Regions from separate parts of the Homo sapiens genome. Here region 2 is linked to region 1. Evidence: fine-mapped expression QTL. A gene starts in region 1. The other region holds a variant in brackets. All regions are shown on one strand. Distances are from middle to middle.

Region 1 (2,912 bases):
TAACATCGTTTTTATTTATCCCCGTCCATTCGATAATCGTCTGAAATGCAAGACATTAAGTTGAACATCATCCAGCTTTCTCCCTGTTTTTCTAAGCGCGATCCAAATCTGTTACAACAGGGTAGTCTCTCATTCTCTTGGTAGCTCAATTCTACCCCCTGGCCGACTTAAGAAATTTTGAGTCTAATACACCCACCTCATCTTTAGTCGGCCTGGTGCGCCAACGCAAATTTGTACTGAGTACCTTCGGAACTGACTAGTAAGTATATCCAAAGGTTTAGAAAGGGCTGGGTTAAGAGCTACAAGAAGCATTAACCGCAACGGCCACAACTAATTTGTATCCATTCTTAGTAACTTTAGGGAACCAGACTGAATGCTTCTCCCACCCTTTTGACTTTCCTTTATTAGTTCGCAACACAAGAACATACAAAAGACCGTAGCGACAACCATTTCTGACGCCTTCAACTTTTAAATCCAAATTACGTGAAACCACAAAGCATCAGTGGTGTCTCCCCGAGGAATCCAAGACCCCCCGGCCGGTTGCCAAGCCGCCGGAATTTCAGCAGGAGAGGAAGGCTCACCCTCCCACCGCATGGCGATGCCCGGGAGACTGGAGAAGCTCAGGCAGGCTTGGAAGCCAATCCCCGGCATACAGCAGCTCTCGGGAATGCAGAGCCCTAGAGCAAGACCAAGGGCCTCGGCCGACACTGAGAGCCTCCAGGGAGAGGTCAGGTCTCTCTTTCTGTCCTATTTCTCCCTTCGACTTCCCTCCCAGCAGGCTGCTATTGAGCATTCAGCAATCGCCAGACAAAGCCCTTCTGGTCTGCAGAACGCACTCCGGCAAGCCCACCGGGAGAACCAAAGCCGCCTCCTCGCCCCTGTGGGGAAAATGGCGCTCGTCACCCCGGCTCCCTCCCGGGTAATCACAAGGACCAGCCTCCCTCCCTCGCTACAAAATGGCGCCTCCCGCTGGGGCCCCAGAATCGGTATGACTCGCTAGTCAGTGAGGCGGGGTCCGTCTGGGATAAGCGGTTATGTCAACCAGTCAGACACAGGAGCTTTGATTCTGCACTTTGCGCGAGCCACTCAGGGGCGGGCTGTAAAGTCAGGCTTGGCTGACGTCAGTTGAGTGGGCGCGGCTAGGGCGGTTTTCTTTCGCGTCGACCAAACGTGGGCCAATGGAAAACCGGAAGCGTCCTGTGAGTGATGTAATGACAGCCCAATGGAAGCTGGGGGCGGGCCTCAGACACACTATGCGGGTTGCGGGGCCTGGGGGCCGGACGGCTGTTTCCTGTCCTGGTGCATGGTGGTCGGACGAAGGAATTGTTGGAAAATTTTCTCGGAGGTTCGTATATAAATGTGTTTTTACCCAGTGTGCATTATTCTCCGCCTGGCCGCCGCCCTCAGCGCGGCGGCGCGGGCCCGCTTGGGCCCGGGCTCCGGCTCCCGCTGCTCAGCCTCCGCCGCAGGCCTTGCCGATTTTATGGGCCGGCCGCGGTAGCGGCGTCTGGGCAGAAGCGGAGTTTATTAATAACCCGCGGCCGCCACTCTAGGCGGCGGAGCTTTTTTCGTTGAGGACTCAACTCCCCCCAGCTTGTCTCTGAGCGATGCGCCCCGCCTGTTTCCCTCAGGGGACCGCCAAGGGGAGGGAGTGAAAGAGGGGAGGGTGGAGCCCTCGGGAGCCTTGGCCGCGTTTCTCGGCCTGACCTCCGCGCAGAGCGAGTCCCCAGGCGCCGCCGAGGCAGAGTTCCGCCGCCTGGGACGCCGGGCCCACGGGCCACACCAGGCCGCAGCGGGGGCGCCGGGGACAGGGCTGGCCCAGGCCCTCCCAGGACCTGCCGGTCTCACCTAGCGCTTGCTTCCCATGCGTATCGTGGGCAGATTGTTTCCCCCTCACCCTTTCTTCTATTAAAAAAAAAAAAAGGTTACTGAGGTCTAACATCGGATATTAGAAATTTACAATTTTATCCTCCCTTTTCTCCAGTTTTGGCCAAAAGAGTGAACAAATTCTTATAAGTCTCTTTGAAACGTATTATTGTGGAACGCGAACTAGTTTTTATTCCTTCCCCTTTTGCTTTGGACATTTGTTTTTTCCACATAATAACGAAGTTAAAAAGAGGAAAGAAGAATACCATTGCCAGCCCATTATTTGTTTAAAATCAGCGTCAGCCTTTGCTTTGGAAGTGTCTAAATCAGCTGATATAATCAAGTGAGAATGTGGGGAGAAATTGTAGGTTCGAGATTGTGGTCGGCTTTGTCCTGAATCTTACCAGAAGATACTTGTGTTTTCCTGTAGTTGACAAAAAACGGTGCAGTATTTAATGTTTTTTCTTGCTGAGTATGTAGATCAAGTTTACGTTTAGTAAGAAAATAACGTGATAAGGAGATCACTCAAAAACACCCATAAGATGCATAGCTAATTTTGTCCTGGCGTATTTTGACTGTTTGGAAATTTTTTTTTTTTAATTGTCAGTGTCCACTATTTGGAAATTCTATGAGCAGTCAGCTGTCTACAGATACTTGAGTGCCTTTTTTTTTTTTGCTTTACAGATGCCCGCCTTTATTTTTTAAAATAGCTTTAGTGATGTAATTCACATACCTTACAGTTCACCCATTTAAAATGTGTAATTAGGCCTGGGCAGCATAGGGAGACGGCCCTCCCATGTTTCTACAAAAAAAATTTTTTTTAAGTGAAATCAGCGTGTGCCTGTAGTCCCAGGTACTTGGAGGCAGAGGTGAGAGGATCACTTGAGCCCAGGAGTTCCAGGCTGCAGTGAGCCGTGATTGTGCCACTGTACTCCCGTCTGGGTGACAGAGACCGGTCTCGAAAAAAAAAAAAGTGATAATTAGTTGAATTTTAGCCTGGGTGTGGTGGCTCACACCTGTAATCTCAGCACTTTGGGAGGCCGAGG
Region 2 (2,912 bases), 39 kb after region 1:
TAGTATTCATTTGTCAAACCACATGTTCATATAACAGCTTTAAAATCATGATATTTTCATTGGTATAGTGTGGGATTGAGTAAGGGACATAGGGACTTCTGTAACAAATACAGAAGATTACAGTGCAAAAACAAAGCAGGATGTTACAGAATCAGAGTAGTAATACAGTGAAAATTATCCTAGAACAGTTGATTCCCTATCATAGCATGTCAGAGCTGGGAAGACTTTAGAGGTCATCTAGATCCAAGAGAAAAGACTTGCCCAGGATAAACTCTTTGTTCTCCTTAGGCTGACATAATGAATAAAACTTACTAGAGATAGGATCAAAGATTCCTGCTCCTTTTAAAATGATTTCATACTTAAGGGGAGAAATCTTTTGGAATGGTTTCCACCAATAGAGAAATCATAATTTCATTTGACCAAAAGAAAAACAACAAACTAGCCAGTCGTGGTAGCATGTGCCTGTGGTCGCAGCTACCCGGGAGGCTGAGGTGTGAGGATTGCTTGAGGGCAGGAGTTCGAGGCTGCAGTGTGCAACCATCGTGCCTGTGAAGAGCCACTGCATTCCAGCCTGAGCAACATAGTGAGACTCATCTCTTAAAAAATTTAACAAACTTACTATATATAGATAAATATCTGTATCTGTCTATATAAAGAGAGATTTTTTCCCCTTCCCCAGAAGTTGTTTGCCTAATTTGAGCTCATCCTAGAAAAGGGTACATGAGAATCAAAAGCAAAGGCTACTTCTTGCTTGACAGTTTAAAGGCCTTTCGTATTCCAAGATTGTATAAAGCAAATATGAAGGAAAGAAACATAATTGGTAAAGCAGATTTTTTTGTTTTTGAGACAGTGTCTCACTTCAGTGCCCAGGCTGGTGTGCAGTGGCACAGTCACAGCTCACTACAGCCTTGACTTCTTGTGCTCATGTGATCCCCCCATCTCACCCTCCCGAGTAGCTGGGACTTACCACTGTGCACCACTACACCCAGCTAATTTTTTGAATTTTTTTTGTAGAGACGGGGTTTCGCCATGTTGCCCAGGCTGGTCTTGAACTCCTGAGCTCAAGTGATCCGCCTGCCTTAGCCTCTCAAAGTGCTGGGATTACAGGCATGTGCTGCTGTGCCTGGCCAGACTTTTTATAAGCTTAGATTATGAGGGTAGTAGTAGTATGTCCAGCAGGTATTTTTGAC[A/G]TATGTGCTAGGCACTAGATTTTCTTTTTTTTTTTTTTGGTTCAGTAACACAAGTATGTATTGAACACCTACTATTTCCTGACACAGTTAATATTAGGCATTATCTTGTTGAACATTAGTTAAAACACCATTTTTTTTTCTCTTGAGATGGAGTCTCGCTCTGTCGCCGAGGCTGGAGTGCAACGGTGTAATCTCGGCTCACTGCAACCTCCGCCTCTTGAGTTCAAGCGATTCTCCCGCCTCAGCCTCTCGAGTAGCTGGGATTACAGGCGCCCGGCACCATGCCCAGCTAATTTTTTGTATTTTTAATAGAGAAAGGGTTTCACCATGTTGGCCAGGCTGGTCAAAACACCATATTTTTAAAGAGCAAAAATTATTTTCCTGCAAGATATTGTAGAATAAATCAAGTAGGATACAAGCTTTTAGGGAATTCTGGGTTTGTTCTAATTTAATTCATATTCCTGACTGTACTTTTCTTTTATATTTCTTATGTTTTTCTCTCTGCTTTTCTCAGCTCATTTTTTGCCTACCTGGATGATTCCATCTTGGAGAGCTATGTAATCAGTGATTAGTTTTGAATACCATTCCCAGTTTCTTATGTAGATTTAAGTTTGGAGTGGAAGATGCTGTTTCCCCAACCCCCCCAAAAAAATGCCTGAAAGGGAAGCTCAGCACAAGAAGGCTAGAGTCTTGAGCATAATCCTAGGCAGGATTGAAGGATAAGACATTTTAATCCTCTATATATTTTTGCACCATTTAATGTATTACCCTTTATATTTGCAGGAGAAAGGCCCTTTAAGTGTCCCTTCGAAGGCTGCGGTCGGTCCTTTACAACATCAAATATCAGAAAAGTGCACGTTAGGACACACACAGGAGAAAGACCTTATTACTGCACAGAGCCAGGATGTGGGAGGGCATTTGCCAGTGCAACAAATTATAAAAACCATGTGAGGATACACACAGGTAACAATCTCTGATCTTTTGGTCTTTTATCTTTCAAGGCTCAGTTTAACTCCTGCCTTTTCCAGAAACCATTTCCAACTAATCTCTTCCCTCCTTTCTATCACTTGGCATGGTGGAAAGAGATTAAGCAACTTGAAAAAGTTTCACCTTAACAGTCATACATTCATTTATTCAACAAACAGTTATTGAGTATCTCCTGCCAGGCATCAAACATAGAGAGATAAGACATTGTCAAGGGCAGGCTACTTGGGAAGAGATAGTAGACATACAGTTGCTGCAGTGTCTCCCATTATATGGACAAGATGCTGTGGGAGCAGAGAGGGGAGCAGTCACTTCTGCAGGAATGGGAGAAGCATTTTGGGAGGGGTTTCTGGGAGATATTTGGCATACAGACTCAATCCTGAAGTTTGCCACATAAGAGAGAAGGGTATTCCTGGCAGGGGAAATGTCATGGGGAAAGGCACAAAGGTATGAAAAAGCATGATACTCAGTGGTTCCATATGACAGGAGCATTAAGTACATGTAGAAGATTTGTACAAGGTGAGTTCTGAGAGGTAGCCAGAGGCCTTGTGTGTTGTGCTGTCAAAGTTAAGGTACTTCTTAAACTGGACTTTGTGAAGCTTGTGAGGGGGCGGGGTGGTCTATGGATATATTCTTTTTTTTTTTTTTTTTTTTTTTTTTTTGGGATGGAGTTTCGCTGTTGTTGCCCAGGCTGGAGTGCAATGGCGCGATCTCGGCTCACTGCAACCTCCGCCTCCC

What was found.
Region 2: its variant is fine-mapped to the expression of ZNF143 in whole blood (INTERVAL, PIP 0.91).

The regions. Positions count from the first base shown.
Region 1 is chr11:9,459,732-9,462,643 of GRCh38, forward strand. It overlaps ZNF143 (zinc finger protein 143), which reads left to right and starts at 1,281. Exons shown (of 16, transcript NM_003442.6): 1 at 1,281-1,345. ZNF143-AS1 (ZNF143 antisense RNA 1) reads right to left here and starts at 967. Exons shown (of 1, transcript NR_036539.1): 1 at 1-967. RefSeq lists enhancers at 1-285, 485-564, 655-754, 815-894 and a silencer at 1,665-1,874.
Region 2 is chr11:9,499,118-9,502,029 of GRCh38, forward strand. It overlaps ZNF143 (zinc finger protein 143), which reads left to right. Exons shown (of 16, transcript NM_003442.6): 11 at 1,974-2,153. Among named protein-coding and RNA genes, the nearest start is that of ZNF143, 40 kb to the left of the region's middle. The variant A/G (reference allele first, on the strand shown) is at 1,191.